Regions from separate parts of the Homo sapiens genome. Here region 1 is linked to region 2. A link means that fine-mapping ties the variant in region 2 to the expression of a gene that starts in the linked region. Tissue or cell type: whole blood. Region 2 holds a variant in brackets; the other region holds the start of a gene. All regions are shown on one strand. Distances are between the middles of the regions.

The links. PIP is the estimated chance that this variant, and not a neighbour inherited with it, causes the effect.
Region 1: it holds the start of RASSF5, and the variant in region 2 is fine-mapped to the expression of RASSF5 in whole blood (TOPMed, PIP 0.92).

What each region holds. Positions count from the first base shown.
Region 1 is chr1:206,502,858-206,510,959 of GRCh38, forward strand. RASSF5 (Ras association domain family member 5) reads left to right here and starts at 4,674. Exons shown (of 6, transcript NM_182663.4): 1 at 4,674-5,202. The coding sequence starts at 4,746. It overlaps LOC124904493 (a long non-coding RNA gene), which reads right to left and starts at 4,550. Exons shown (of 2, transcript XR_007066830.1): 1 at 4,009-4,550; 2 at 562-2,263. RefSeq lists enhancers at 1,563-1,612, 1,643-1,692 and silencers at 4,290-4,339, 4,590-4,949, 4,990-5,079.
Region 2 is chr1:206,573,100-206,581,201 of GRCh38, forward strand. All of the region lies in intron 2 of RASSF5 (Ras association domain family member 5), which reads left to right. It also overlaps a transcript of EIF2D not described here. Among named protein-coding and RNA genes, the nearest start is that of EIF2D, 35 kb to the right of the region's middle. RefSeq lists an enhancer at 2,759-2,808. The variant AC/A (reference allele first, on the strand shown) is at 5,016.

The DNA.
Region 1 (8,102 bases), 70 kb before region 2:
CTCTCAGTCTAGTAATGTAAAATATTACTGACCCCCATCACACATTGCAAGCAGCACTCACTTCTTTGGAAAGCTGAGCTCTGCATGCAACATGCTGCCCAAGAAGGAAAGGAAGCAGCACTGGAGACCTGTGTTTCATAGCTAACCAAGATAAGGGCATTTTTTTCCAAATGTCTGTGGAGGGGGTCACACCATTTTAACTATTTACTGCTGTAACCCCATTTTTAAAGTGTAGTCTGTGAGCCATCTGAATCAAAGTCTCTTGCAAAATCCCGGCCAAAATCCAGACATACTGAATCAGAGGGTCAGGTCCCAGAATAGGCATTTTGAACAAACTCAGGTTCATAAAGCTTGAAAAGTTTTTGGGGCTGTTGTGCCTGTTGTTCTCTTAGTCTGGGACACTCTTGTCCAGATTGACAAAGGGCTTGCTTCATTCAGATCTGCTTAAATGTCTGCTCCTCAGAAAGGTCTTTCCTGACTACTCAATCTAATAGAGTAGCCTCTATCACCTTCATCCCCTTAATGTGCTTGATTTTTCATCAAAGTGCTTACAACCTGATATCATATTACTCTTGTGTCTGTTTATTGTCTGGCTCTTTCACTAAATGCAAGCTTCATGAACATATCCATTTCACTGTTGTACCTTTAGTGCCTAGAACAGTGCTTGATACATAGTGGATATCAGAGAATTACTCATTAAATGAATGAATAACTGCTCTATGCCCTTGAAGATTGCACTGGCCATTAGCGCTGATTGCCAAATATTTCCAGCCCTTTCCCCTTCTGAGCACAAGGTAGAATTTTACATCTGCTCCTGTTTGTAGAGTGGGGTCATATGACTAGTTCTGGCCAATAAGCTGTGAGCAAAAGTGACTGGAGCTTTTAAATGCTGATGTGGGATCCTCCAGGCTCTCTCAATCTCCCTTTGGCACAGTGACTGGCAATATTAGACATGGTGAGTCTGATGAGAAGAGAGCACCTGCCAACCTGCAAAAGGCATGTAATGTGAGCGAGAAAGGAGTCTGTTATTTCAGGGCACTCAGCTGTGGAGCTTATTACTACAGCATAACCTAACTTGTCCTGACTCTTACAGTGATTCCATGTAGACAGTTGTGCAACTGTCAGAATCCCTGGGAGTTCCCTGAAAGCTTCGGGGATTTCAGGCGACTTCAGACGCCTCAAAGTCAAACAAAACCAAAAATGTCCCCTTCAGGAAGTCAGGCCATGTTCTGTCCTTCCGTTTTCCTTCTTACTAGGGAACTTGGGGAGGGAGGCTGGGCGGCAGCAGTTAAACAACTCACCCAATGGGAAAACCAGCACGCTCTGGGACCACCTCTGAAGTGATCTCACACCCTGACCACACACTCTAAACTCACTGTCATAATCCTTCCCCTTGGTCAAAAATAAAAGCAGCACACCCACTCTGCTGGGAGTGAGTCACAAACAGAAAAAAGTCAATGGGTCTGAGCCAAGAGGATCTACTAACAAGGGGAAAGATCTCCCAGTGGAGGTGTTTCAGCGGATGCTGCGGTCTTACCCTTGTAGCCTGGATGACCAGACAGATCAAAAAAAATGTTAAAGTCCAGGCATCTGACACTACCCCAGCAATGTCCTGAGCTTATAATGAGACTAGAGTTTCTTTAGCACTTCTTCCCTGGGGAAGAAGGAATACTCTGCTGTTCATGTGGGGTGTGTGTGTGTGTGTGTGTGTGTGTGTGTGTGCATGGGAGCAAGAAAGAAGTCTATGTGTGTGTCGTGGGTTGGTGGGGAAATGCTATTTCAAGGAAGAAGGGGACTGGGCTGGGAAAACTGGCATCAGAGGAGACATGCCCCAGCCAGGGAGCCTCACATTGAGGTTAAGAAGGGCAACTGCCCGCCCCAACTCTAATTTCTTGGCTCAAGGAGATGAACTTTAAGATAAACTTTATGATAAATTTTTTGATTGGTTACATGGAGTTATATGATTAATATCTCCATTTTCATCTCTTTTCCCACCCCAGAAGCCAAATATAGGGCTCTGGCCCTGCACAATCTCCTCCCACATTCATGCTAAGAGCAGCCACTGCCACTCCACCAAATCAGAGCTGCAGGAGGAAAACAAAAACTAGAGCATTTTTCTGTACAGCCCAGACAACTGGGGAAGAGTTTTATGCCTGATGGTTTCAGATAGCCCTCAGTTTCCCGTGGCCAGAGATGACGCTCCTCCTCATGAGTCTCTCTATCCAGGAAATCTGGGCTGGGCTGCCCAAACCATGCTTTGAGGCTGCAGGGAAGGACAGAGATGGAGACTGTTAGCAATTATTTCACAAATGGCTTTTCAAAGCCGATCTTCCAGGGATGCACTTGTTGTCAGATCCCTGCTGCTTCTTGCCCCACCAGGCTGTCACTCAGAGCTCAAGCTGTTTCCATGCCCAGGACCTCACCCACCCACTGCACTCCAGGAAGGGGATGAGTCTCAAGTGTGTGGAGATGGGTAACAGAGTGTGGACACAGCAAATATTTATATGGAATACAGATTTCTGCAACAACCCCAAGAGAACTGCTTGCAGAAAAAGTGGGAGATTAAAATAAGAGACCACAAGGGCAAATTGTATTTTCCCTTTTACACCTTCAGCAGAAAGTATTCAGGAATAGCCCTCATTGGGCTTTTATCTGTCAGGTCCACTGAAGTACACTTGTCCTGGGGAGAAGGAACAGAGAAGCCCATTCTCAGAATCACCACCTCAGACCTAGAGCAATGGTTTTCCAAGTTGGGTCCCTGGATCAATAGCATCAACACCTGGGAACTTGCTCAAAATGAGCCATCTCAAACCCCAGCCCCAGACCTATAGATTCTGAAACTTTGGGGATGAAGCCCAATAATCTTAACAAGCCCTCCAGATGACTGTGATGCATACCAAGGTTTGAAAACCACTGATGTAGCAAAAGCAAGGTTAGGAGAGGGAAGAGGAAAGGTAGAGGAGGGGTGGGGCAGAGGCGGTGGCCTGTGGCTTACACCCCTCATCGGAGCTCCTCTGTTTGGTAGCACTGTGGGGTTGACTGTCCCATGGGTCATTCCTCAGAAACCACCTCATAGGGTGAGCTCCCGCCTCTGGTGAGCCCCCAGAGCCCCAGGAACCTCTCTTCTGCTACAGATTTGGGAGGCAGAGGACTATGATTACCGTGAGGGAGAAGCCATGGAGCAAAGCTGGCTGGGAATTCCCTGGCCACTGGACTCTGGAAATCTTAGGAATTACCTAAAAATTACCTCCAAGGGAAAAACAAAAAGCAAAAGTGAAGATTCCCCTACGAAGCACTAGGGGGAGACCCATCTCTGGCCTGGGAAGAGAAGGGAGAGACCAGGTCCAGAAGAATTTAGACTATTCTTCTAAAAAATGACCACCGCTAGACGGACCAAACCGAACCTGTGTTTTAAGAGGAAAGCTGTGATCACTGAGTCATAATGACGGAGCTGGAGAGTGCCACGTTAACAACCACCTGTCTCCCCACCTCCAGCCCAATGTACAGTTAACAATACTGGGGCTAGAGAGGGCCAGGGCCCAGGCCCAGGTTCAGAGATCCAGGAGTCCTCCTTATCCATAAGATGGGCCTGTTTCCATGGGCAAAGGTGCCTGTCAGGAACAACTACATAATTTGTGGGAACCAGTGCAAAAAGAAAACGCCTGGCCCTTTGTTCAAAAAGTAAGACTTTCAAGATGGTGACCGCAGAGCGTTAAACCAGACAAGGGTCCATGAAGGCTTGAAGCAAGCCTTCACGGGGGAAAGTGCCGGGAGAAAGGAGATCTCTCTTTGGGTCCCATGAGTGAACCATCCATACCAGGTTCCACTTAGGGCATTTAGGGGAACTGGTATCTCCACAGTAATTACTAGAGCAGCTCTGGGGAACGGAGGGTTGGCTAAGGAAGAAAAGCTCCCCCAACCCTTGGGGCGAGGGAGCGTTCTCTCAATGGAGCCCCCCCAACTCCCCTCCACCCCCCACCAGTCTTCCAGGAAAGAGGAATACCCTACCCGGCAGGGCTGCGAAGGAAGGGGAAATCCAACCAGAGCGAAAGTCGCACGCGGACAGCTCTGCCAGCCCTTGGAGGCATCCGGCGGTCACCCACGGGACAAAGCGCGGCTGCGGGAGCGCGCGCGGGGCATTCCGGACCCGCGTCGAGCTCCGCTCTAGAGGGGGCGGCGGGCGGCGACAAGCCGGAGAGAGGAAGGGCCAAGGAGCACGGCCCTCCTGTCGGCACCATCAGCGGGAGAGTGGCGAGCGGACGCCTAGACGGAGGGGCCCTACTCAGACCCCATCGAGCCAGTTCCCAAGCTTTTCCCTCCGACCTGCTCCCTCCCGGGGCGCGTGAGGGTGCGGGTCGGGGGTGAACCTGGTGTTGGGGAAAGTGATTGGCAAGGGAAAGAGGCAGGGCTGAAGGCCTAGGGCCCCCCGCAGAAATGCGCCCTCTGAGCTGTACTGTACAGAGGCGCTCCTCTGCGGAATCCTGCAGCTGCTCCAGGTGAAGACGCCCCCAAATCCACACTCGCGCAGACGTCGCCTGGCACGGACCCTACCCCCTTCGGTCCGTCGGCGGTTCTCTTGGGTCGTCCTTCCTGCCACTCCGACTCTCCCCGCCCCCGCCCCGCCCAGCAGGCTGCGGTTCCTTTAAAGGCGCGCTGGTGTGGGGCGGCCCCTTCTCTCGGGGCTGGCTCGGGAGTAGCGCAGTCGCCAAAGCCGCCGCTGCCAAAGCTGCCGCCACTAGCCGGGCATGGCCATGGCGTCCCCGGCCATCGGGCAGCGCCCGTACCCGCTACTATTGGACCCCGAGCCGCCGCGCTATCTACAGAGCCTGAGCGGCCCCGAGCTACCGCCGCCGCCCCCCGACCGGTCCTCGCGCCTCTGTGTCCCGGCGCCCCTCTCCACTGCGCCCGGGGCGCGCGAGGGGCGCAGCGCCCGGAGGGCTGCCCGGGGGAACCTGGAGCCCCCGCCCCGGGCCTCCCGACCCGCTCGCCCGCTCCGGCCTGGTCTGCAGCAGAGACTGCGGCGGCGGCCTGGAGCGCCCCGACCCCGCGACGTGCGGAGCATCTTCGAGCAGCCGCAGGATCCCAGAGTCCCGGCGGAGCGAGGCGAGGGGCACTGCTTCGCCGAGTTGGTGCTGCCGGGCGGCCCCGGCTGGTGTGACCTGTGCGGACGAGAGGTGCTGCGGCAGGCGCTGCGCTGCACTAGTAAGTGTGAAGGCAGGGGAGGGGCGTGCGGGGAGACCGCAGTCTGGGGGCGAAGGACTGGGAGGGCCCTGGGGCAGGGAGAGAGGGGCCATTACACTCTTTGGCTCCAGGGGAGCCCCGAACATAAGGAGATAACAACCCCTGGGGACAGTCCGCTCCTTAGTTCCCTGCCCGGTATCCTTTAGTGCCTGCCCACTACCTAGGTATGGTTATGCGGTAGTTAACAGATACCTGTCTCCTGACAGGTGCGTGCCTTGGCCCTCCACACACACACACACACACACACACACACACACTCGCACACAGGTTGTGGGGGGTGGGTGGGTGATGGCCTCGGCGGCCTCTGTCATCTCCCTGTGCACCCTCATGGTTTTGTTGTGAGTTCTTGGGAGTGGGTTGTGAGACTGCTGTTGAGATGACCGTTTGACCCTTGCTTATTAGGGTTACTGACAAAACGCTTGTTTGTCCGCCCATGGTACAGGCTCAGACCTCTCCTCCAGGGGGACGTATTGGGACAGGGAGGAGACCTTGTTAGATTTTGGATAAAGGCAGGCTGTGAGGCTGAAGAGAGCCTGAAGTCACCCTGAACCCGTGCCCCCTCCTGCCTTTCACCTCTGGCCCCTCAAACCTTTGGACTCTGCTCCAATGTTTGGCTGTGCCCTGCCTCCTCCCCTTCCTCCTCCTGGGTTCCTGCCCTAGTCGTCATGCTCTAACATTACTCAGCTCCTGACAGGGTCCCTTCCTCTCCACAGCCCTCAGGCCCCTCCAGTCACCTCCTGAGCCAGGCGCTTCTCAAAGCCAGAAAACACTGGGCCCCCAGTGTATAGATTTTCTGAGCCAATCTTCAGTCTCCTTGGGGGTTTATTATTTTTCTCCTCCTACAGTTAGGGGTGTGTATGCCTTTAATAGGTGTCCACCCTCCACCCCCACCCCGGCATTTGCTCTTGCGTGTTTATCAGAGGATATCCACAGCCATGTGTTCATGTGTTTACATGGATATTTCAAATATCTGAAGCCCAAAGCACAGACAATGGCACAGCCTCTAACAAGCATCTCTGGAAATGGATTGTGGTTTGCATCTTTCAGCAAAGGCCCTTCCCCTATGGCAGCAGCCTCACGTCTCCCATCCAACTGCAGCGTTGGACAGCAGCAGTGATTTCCACATCAGGAAAACCCTACCCTTTTTCTGCCTGCAGTCTGCAGCGGAGGCTGTTCAATGTGCTGCCCGCTGCAGCTGGCTGCAGGGAAATAGAACTCAGACACTAAGCCTGGGTCAAGTGGAAGGGAAAGATTGGAAGGGCAAGTGGGTGCTGCTCTTTCCTCCACCAGAACCCCCAGTTCAGGTGCTAATTAAGAAGGAAGGAGTAAAGGTTTGTAGAGGTACATGTTGTGGGTAGAGGGGCTGCTGTCCCTTGGTAAATGCCTTTGACTACAGTAGAATCAAATGCAACTTATCCTTGGATGTGTTGGCAGCTTTTGCACTTTCAAGATTCCCTTACTGCATCCAACAACCCTACACACAGGGAGAGAGGCAGGAGCCTCACTGAAATGGGTTTTATCATAGCTGGAATCCCAGGAAATCTGCTTCGTTGGCATTCTAGTTTGTAGTTAGACTTTGGGGGACTGTATCACTTGTTGAAGATTTTGCACATAGTTTTGTGATTTTCTTTTTTTTTTTTGGTTTGGTGATAATGGTGCGTTTGTGTGTATTTGCGTGTGCCTGTGTGTGATACTCCATGACTAAATGAATTGATCCTTACGTCACATCAGAATTGTCGATCTCCTTTGATTAAGTCATACGTCGTTTCTAGTGGCAGGAAGATCTAGGCCCCCGGGCAGTACCTCTGACTTTGTGTGTGACTTGGTGAGGTCTTTTTACTTTCCTGGGCGCTCATGGTCCCCCACAGAGTTGGTTTAATGCTAACGATGTCTGAACACTGGAGAGAAAGCAAAACTGGAATCGAGGGGCTACAGAAAGGAGTCTCTGTTTGTCATGATTAATATTTAACTAATTGTGAACCTATGGCTGGATGGCAAAAGTTGAGAAATGTTCTGATGTGCAGATGAGGGCTGGCAGGTGGAGACACAGCAGGCCAAACTCGCTGAGCATCTTTCTTTAAGTTGAAGGTCTGATTCCATGGTGAGGTTGCTTTGTTTTATCTTCATTTTGAAAAGCAAGTGTCAGAAATAGGACTTTAAAAAAAATCATACTATGCAGTAGTTAAGAGTACAGACTGGAACCAGAGCCCTGGGTTTGAATCCTGACTACCACTTAGTCCCCACGTGAGTCCTGGACATCTCTGTGTTCTGCTTCTTTGTTTAAAAAAAATAGGATAATGATATTACCTACTTCATCATGTTAATCTGAGAATTAAATGGATTAATATACATAAGGCACTCAGAACAGGGCCTAGCAAAATGCAATACGAATGTTTAATTCGATATGATTGTTATTGTCCCCTCCCATCTAACAGCTGTAACAACTAGTCTGGGCTTGTGACACCTCCTAGGATTACCTTTCGAAGCAGTGAGTACAATTTGCGAACTCTGCCTGGTTGCTGAGCTAAGTGGGGAAGTGACTGCCATAGACATCCCAGAAAATTTGGGTATTAGGTGTCCTCTAGAAATGCCACTCCTACCTGATGTCCTGCTGTGGCTGAGGAGACCCTTCTTTGCCTGGCATAGGGGCCACGAAGCCATTGGCTCCTTGTCTTTGTGTTTCTTGCACCCAGCAGAGTGCCAGGCCCAGAGCAGGGTCTCACTATGTGGTGAGTGATGAAAGTGATGGCTTGTTTGTGCTATTAAATATCCCAGCCCTTGGAAACAAGCAGGAGGGCAGTGGGTATGTGAGTGACATCTGTCTGCCCAGGAGACTGACACTGGGTGGGAACCATGTTGGC
Region 2 (8,102 bases):
TTGTGCTAAGCACTTTGAGGCCTGAGATCTCATTTCATCTTCACAACAAATGTATAAACTGCATTTCACAAAGAAATCAGTCTCCGTGTGGTGGCTCATGCCTGTAATCCCAGCACTTTTGGAGGCCGAGGTGGGCGGACTGCTTGATTTTTTACCTTCACATCAATCCCGTGAGGCAATAAAGGATTTTTATCCCAAATTTATAGATGAAGAAACTGAGGCATATAGATTTTCTGACTTTCTCAAGACCATGTAGTGAGTAATAGGAGTCAGAAGCCAAATACACACTCATGTTCATCCTGCAGGTATTTACTGAATCTCTGCTATGTGTCAAGCTGGCACTGGGATCTGGGACGCCATAGAGGGCAAGACAGGCACGGGTGCTTCTCTCACGGAACTCAGTATAAATGGAAATCCAAGGCTCACTACTGCACTGTAATTCCTAGGAGAAATTAAGACCTCAAGAACCACTGAAGCAAGTATTGAGCAAGTATTTCCTATTTGCCTCATGTTCAGAGCCACCAGGCATAGAGAAGTAGTAGCAGTGGATGTAAGTCATTAAAGAGCTTCAGTCTAGTTGGGAAGAAGACCCGAGATGGATGGTCTACTTGGAAGTTAATATAAGTAGCCAGGCGTAGTGGCTCACGCCTGTAATCCCAGCATTTTGGGAGGCCAAAGCGGGAGGATCACTTGAGGCCAGGAGTTTGAGACCAGCCTGGGCAATATAGTGAGAGCCCCATCTCTTAAAAAAACAAAATAGAAATCGGAGTCTTAGTGAGGTGGACTTGATCAAGTTCACAGAAGACCAAGGGCATGGCCAGCACAGGCCACCTGTGGCCCAGCGTGCAAGGCAGCATGGTCTAATGGTGAAGAGTAACAGCATCTTTCTTGTTATTTAGGGGATTAAATGAGATCAGGACCTTGAACCCTTCAGGGCAGTGCCTGACTACTGTCGGTTTTTAATATTATAATGAGGCTCTGCAGGGGCTTGAACTTAGGTCCCTGTAAGGGAGCTACTGTTCCCTGGTATAACCCACTCTAGCTGAGCTGTGCAGAGACTGAGATGGTCACCTCAAAGAGCAGGGGACCCCGTGTCCAGACTCTGGGGCATGCTGGCAACCTGAGGAGTCTGCGGGAGTGGCCTGATCTGTGCTGCTTGAGGCTTTTTGTCCCAGATCACACTGTACTTGCTCTGGTGTGCCACAGCGCATCCATCTCTGTCTTCCCTTCTCAGGTCACCTGCAGACTCCCAAGGACAGGGTCACATCCCATCTGCGTCATCTCTCAAGGTGCCTTTCACGATCCTCACCCATAGGCAGTTCATTCAGTTACTACTGGCGGACTGTTGACATTGACCATCTGCTCTACGTTTTTGTCTTTGGAGACTTGAGTCTCTTTCCATTCTCAACCTCCACCCGCCACCTCTTTTTTCCCTCTGCTCTGTTAATACACCCTACCAGAGCTGCTCAAATTCCACATGGAGCAGAAGCTCCATGATAAAGCCCCTTCCCTGCTCTGCTGCAAATAACCTATTAGGGAACACAGTTAAGGAGTTCCCAACCCTTTTAATTTTGGGACAATGGACAGTGCCATAGAGGGACCTGTGGAAATCAACCCCTTCACTGCTGTGGTGGGTCTGTGGAGTCCATTTCAGAACACAGGCCTTCGAAGACCTGGGAGGGGGCCCTGCAGTAAGGCCCCATAGGGATTCCTCTTTCTCATTTGGTTGAGACCATCACAAAGGGACCAATGACTTTTTTTTTTTTTTTTTTTTTTTTGAGATGGAGTCTCGCTCTGTCATCCAGGCTGGAGTGCAGTGGCGCAATCTTGGCTCAATGCAACCTCTGCCTCCCAGGTTCAAGCGATTCTTCCGCCTTAGCCTCCCGAGTAGTTGGGATTACAGGCGCACGGATAATTTTTTTGTTTTTGTTTTTGTTTTTTTTTTTAGAAGAGACAGGGTTTCATTATGTTGCCCAGGCTGGTCTTGAACTCCTAACCTCACCTTTGAATGCGGTTTGGACATTGAGCAGGGTATTTCAAATCCAGCCCAGATAGATGGGTGTCTGCCCCTTGCCTGCAGACGTTCCCATCTAGGGCAAGCACAACAGAAGCACCGGGTGTTTGGGGTGTGGAAGGCAGCTGCAGATGGACATTCTCCTGTAGGAGGGGCCTGAGGCTTTCCTCCCTGACTTAAGCCTGGAGATGGCTTCCTTCCAAGGGGTGAAAGAATTGCTGCTGACAGATTTGCTAAGAGCTGAGAAAGAGGAAATGTGGCAAAGGCTCATGGTGAATGGCTTCCGGGGTATTTTTTGTTTTGTTTTCTTGAGTTGTGTGTGTTAAGAATGCGTAGACCGGCTTGGGCTTGGCTAAGATAGAGTCTTGCTGACAATAGAGAAAAGTGGTGAGCAGTGAAAAAGTAAAGTCGTGGCGGTTAGAAATGTTCTTTGTGCTCCTTTAGATTGGTTATTCCTGCTGCCATTCAGCCATGCTAGCTAGCCTCCAAGAGGCCCCCATCTCCACACCCAATTCTCTGAAATAGAAGAGGAAGCAATGATGAGAAAAAAACACCACCCTATCTTATGTGTAAAATCTTAGTCCTGCGAAGGGGCCCTTAGAGCTTCTCCAGTATCACTTCATGATTTCACAGATAAGGAAACTGAGGCCCTGAGAGGGGAAGTAGCTCCCCAGACGTCACAGGTCATTTGATGGTCTTGCATTTGTTCTCATCAGCTAGCTGCCAAGAGCTGAGCCACACGGCTAACGCCAAAGTCCAAAGCCTGGTGTGTGTTCTTGGTATCAGACCCTCAGGGTGCAGCTGAGTGTGAGGTGCTCCTGGACCTAGGGGTCTGGGGTGGGCTCTGGCCTGAGACTCCCCAGGCTGTCTTGCCCTCCCCTGCCACCCAATCAACAGGTATTTATCTGACACCTACTTAAAGTTTGGCCCAGGTTTCAGCCAAGCGGGGTGCCAAAAAGCTTAGGCACCAAACTAATGTCTGCCTCCATCCAGAGAGCATCTCACTGGGGAGATGGGATTAACATGTGAAACAATCATTAAACAATAAAAGGCAGCATATAATTAGATGCCAGCTGTAGCCACACAGGCTCTGAAATCACCTCTATAGGCTCTTGCAGTATGGATTTAACATTAGCCAGCAGCTGCAGAGATCTGTGACGATGGTAATTTGTACTTTTGCTGCAATGGGAATCTGAGGCTTTGAGGCCATGGGGCTGGTGTTTGGGAGCGAGTCACAGAACCAGGGGGTGAGCCTAGCTGTCTACCTCCATCCCTACCCCAGCCAGCTTTGTTGCCTCCTCATTGCAGAATGGAGTAAAGTGAGCAAAATCCAAGGAAGTGCCCAAGCCTTTGTCTTCTTGTGAAAAGTGTCCATGAAATGAGAGTGAAGTTACAAAGGCCCATTAACTGGTGGTGTGAGGAAATACACAGGAAACATAGGAAGTATGATTCAGGAGAAAGAGAGACCAGGACAAAACTGTGATTACCTTTCTCCATGTGGGAATCAAAATGCCAGGGATCTGGTACATTAAGAGAGCAGAGGATGGAGAGATGGCTATAGACTGGAGAAATTGCATTGGGAAACTACATAGAGAAGGTGGAACTAGGGCTAATAGTGTTCTAGGCAGGAGACTCTGCACAAACAACAGCATAGAGCAAACTACTGCACATGGCCAGGTTCCATAAATAAAGTTTGTTTTGTTTTTGAGACAGGGTCTTGCTCTGTCACCTAGGCTGGAGTGCAGTGGCACAATCACGGCTCACTGCAGCCTTGAACTCCTGGGGGCTCAGGTCATTCTCCCACCTCAGCCTCCTGAGTAGCTGGCACTACAGGTGCACTTCACTGTGCCCAGCTAATTTTTGTATTTTTTTTTTTTTGTAGAGACAGGGTCTCACTATGTTGCCCAGACTGGTCTCGAACTCCTGGGCTCAAGCGATCATCCTGCCTTGGCCTCTCAAAGTGCTGGGATTGTAGGTGTGAGCCACCATGCCAGGCCCATAAATAGTTTTACTGGAACCCAGTCACACTCATCCAGTAGCTGCTTTTGTGCCACAATAGTAGAGTTGAATAGTGGCAACAGACTGCGTGGCCTGCAAAACCTAACATTTACTGTCTGACCCTTTACAGAAAAAGTTTGCCAACCACTGGTGCAGAGAAAGGAATTAACAAACTCTATGGGCATGTGGCCAATCAGAAGAAGGACTCAAGGAAAATGAAAACTGAAATTGGCTCAGAGGGGTAGAACTTTGCTTTCCTGGGATGATAGTCACCATACATGCCTTTGAATGGGTTTGGTGATTTTCAGAACACTTTTGTACCCATTATCTCATTTGATTTTTACCTTCACATCAATCCTGTGAGACAATAAGGGATTTTTATCCCAAATGTATAGATGAAGAAACTGAGGCTTAGAGATTATCTGACTTTCTCAAGATCATGTAGTTAGTCATGGGAGTCAGAAGCCCAACACACACTTGTGTTCATCCTGCAGGTACTTAACCCCTACTATGTGTCAAGCTGGCACTGGGATCTGGGACACCATAGAGGACAAGACAGGCGTGGGTGCTTCTCTCACAGAACTCAGTCTAAATGGAAATCCAAGGCTCACTGCACTGTAATTCCTAGAAGAAATTAAGACCTTTTTTGTCCACTGTAGGCAATAGGGGATCATTGAAGGTTCTTGAGCAAGTATTTCCTATTTGCCTCATGCTCAGAGGCACCAGGCACAGAGAACAAATTGAAGTATGATGTAAGTCATTAAAGAGCTTTAGTCTAGTTGGGAAGAAGACCTGAGATGGATGAGTCTACTTGGAGGTTAATGTAAGCAGCCAGGCGCGGTGGGTCACACCTGTAATCCTGGCACTTCGTGAGGCTGAAGTGAGAGTATTGCTTGAGGCCAGGAGTTTGAGACCAGCCTGGGCAACATAGCAAGGCACCTCATTTCTACAAAAAAATAAAAAAAATTAGCCAGGAGTGTGGCACATGCTTGTAGTCCCAGCT[AC/A]ATGGGAGGCTGAGGCAGGAGGATTGCTTGAGCCTAGGAGGTCGAGGCTGCAGTGAGTTGTGATTGCACCAGTGCACTCTCGACTGGGTGACAGAGGGAGACATCTCAAAAAAAAAAAGTGTGTGTGTGTGTGTGTGTGTGTGTGTGTAAGTAGATGCTTACTTAAGTGCCAGATAGTATAGTGTTGCCTTTAGATGTAGGTTAGCTTTAACCTTCCTGTGGCTCACTTTCCTTGACTGTAAAATGAGCATCATAATAGTATTTTTTGTGACACATTTGCTGTGATGATGAAATGAGCTAATACATGCTAAGTGAGTAGAATAGTGCACGGTACATATTAGCTGTAGTGAATCATCGTCATCATTCAGGGCTGGAGTGATCAGGAAGAGCTTGACAAATAAAGTGACTTCTGATGGGCAAACAGGTGTGAGATGATTCAAATCGTGGGCCAGAAGGAGGAAAGACTGACAAATTTAAAAAGAGTGAGAGTGAATTTTTTAGCAAAAATTAGGTTTGTGATTTTGGTCAAGAAAAAGTAGGCACGGATGTATATAATAGCTGCAGTACTGCCGGTGGGACACACGTCCTCCTCAGCCCACCCTCATCCTGGGGACCCCCTCTCATTGCCACAGCATTCCTGGGTGCCCTGGGCCCACCTGGGAATACCAGAAGCCACGTGACTCACTCAGAGCCTCTCCTTAGGGCATTAGGTCACTCTCCAGTCACCAAAATTAAGATTACATATGTCATTGATTAGAGTGCAGAAGTAGGGTTTTGTTGCTGTTGCTTTAGTGATAAAATAAAGAAAAACAGCTTAGGGCAAATCTGCCCTGAGTTAGGCCCCAGACGAAAGGGGTATGGTCCTCCTTATTTTGTTAAGAATATTTAAATGGAAGCATTAGAGAATCACTCAGGGTCGGGGTGTCGCTGTGAACCCCTAGCACCCAGCCTCTTTACATGGCTGTTCCCCAATCACCTCCAGAGCTAAAAGAAGACATTGCCCTTTTCCACCGCATAGGACATGTGAGCACAAACCTGTTTTTCACCAGTGCCCTGGACATGCCAAGTGCATTGGGAACAGCTCAGCCATCTGCCACCAATGCCAGGGGCTTAATCGGAATAGATGAATTCCATGCCAGATGCACTGAGATGTGTGAGCCCCCAGGAGAGACACCTCACATGCCAATGTCTATATTTGTTAAATCATAACAGAGTTCCCTATTCTGTCTCTATCTTGGGCCACCCCAAGAGGCAAAACTGTCTGCTTGGTTTCTCGCTTTGTACCCGTGGACAGATCCTTAAGAATCTGGCAGGTGAATAGGAATCAGAGTCTTTGTCTTATCCTCTGAAGATTGCTATAGTATCGATCTCGCTCTCATGGCAGATAGTGCCTGTTAGGTAAACCTTTGGGGTGTTTGTGTGTTTCTTGGCACCAAGTGTTAATTCAGCAGCTGGATGAAGACCCTTGAGGTCTGGAATTGTTGTGAGGGGTCTGTCTATTTCAGTTCTTTTCGAATGTTGCTGCGAATTAAAATCAACTAGGAGATTTTTAAAATTCCCATGCCCAGACTGCACCCCAGACCAATTAAATCAGAATCTCCAGGGATGAAGCCCAGGCAGCTAAGTTTCTAAAGATCCCCCAGATGATTGCACTGTGCAGACAAGTTTAAGAACCACTGGTCTGGATTATACGCCATCTCTTGGGTGGAAAAAGGATCCGTGAGCCCTCGTGGCTGTGGCTGGCTGGCCTAATTCAGGAGGTGATTCATTTGGTCCATGGGTCACATCTTGTCTGCCAGATATTTTTGTGGGCAGCAGCCATCCCAGACCTGGGTGCTGGCATTCCATGGCTGTGACATTCGTAGTGTTGGCTACACACGGGGCTCCTGGCACTCCCAGACAGGGCTTCCCATCACCAGCCAGAGGGCCAGGCCTCAGAATGGTGAGGTCAGGGCTGCTGTCTTTTGAGTCAGCCCTGGAAGGCAGAGGTGCCTGTGGCCACTTGCGTCACTTCCCCGCGTTTGTGGTGGGAAGGGGAGAGATAGATGGGTCTATCTGCTGAAGAAAGGGGAACAGGAAGAAGAAACCCTAGGCTAAGGCAGCTTTGCTTCTCACTGTATTCAAAATCAAGCCTTTGAAAGCCACAGCACAGCTGCCTTTTCTTACGGGGAAATGGCTCTAGCTTGATTGGAAACTATGAGAGGAGATCTTTCCGAAGCTTCTAGAATTTTCTTTCCATTACTTATTTTTTATAGACAAGTATGAGAAAGCTATTACCTCCTGAGGAGCAATAGCCTACATGCGTCAGAGACAGAGTGAGTGTATAATAGTAACCAGACAACGGGGTCTTTCTAATTAGAAGCTCCCAGCGGGAAGGTATAGGGGTAGGGCCAGGGTCAGGCACATCTGGTCCCATAGACATGTGCTCAGCTGGCAAGGACTGAGGATGGGGAGCTCTGGGAGCTACCCAAGGGAAGGGATGAGGAAAATGAGAGGCTTCACTGTGAGAGTCCCCGGGTTAATGGACTGACAGTGAATGAAGAGAGTCTGTGAGGCTCACACTACTTGCTACTCACCTCCGGCAAGTGGGAGATGGCCAGAGCTGCTTGCCCTTGGGTGGTCTGCAACAGAATCAAGGTTCAGTTCCAGAGACCTGGGAAGGCACACAGGAGAAGGCTGGGCCCTGCATCCTGGTGGCTGCATCTCACTTGAGTTAGAAGTCCTTCCTTCCCACCTTCACAGGTGACATGGTGCCTCTGGGGCCTGACCCGCTGCTTAGACTCATCTTAGATGAACATTTCACAGATCAGGTAACTTACAGGCTTTGGTTTAACAGCTGCTCATCCCAGCCCCGCAGCACAGAGTTTCAGTGATCATTATGGGTGTGGCAGGCCGGCCCCTTCAGCAAAAGATGCCGTCCCATGGTGGCTACATGGTGAATTGAGAAGAGCATGGGCCTTAGATGGATTTGATTCCAGTTCCTACTTAGCTTCTTACTAGCAGGGGACCACAGGCATGTTTCTTAAACTCAGCCTCAGTTTTGTTATCTGTGAAATAAGAATGACATACATAGTATGTAAGAGAAG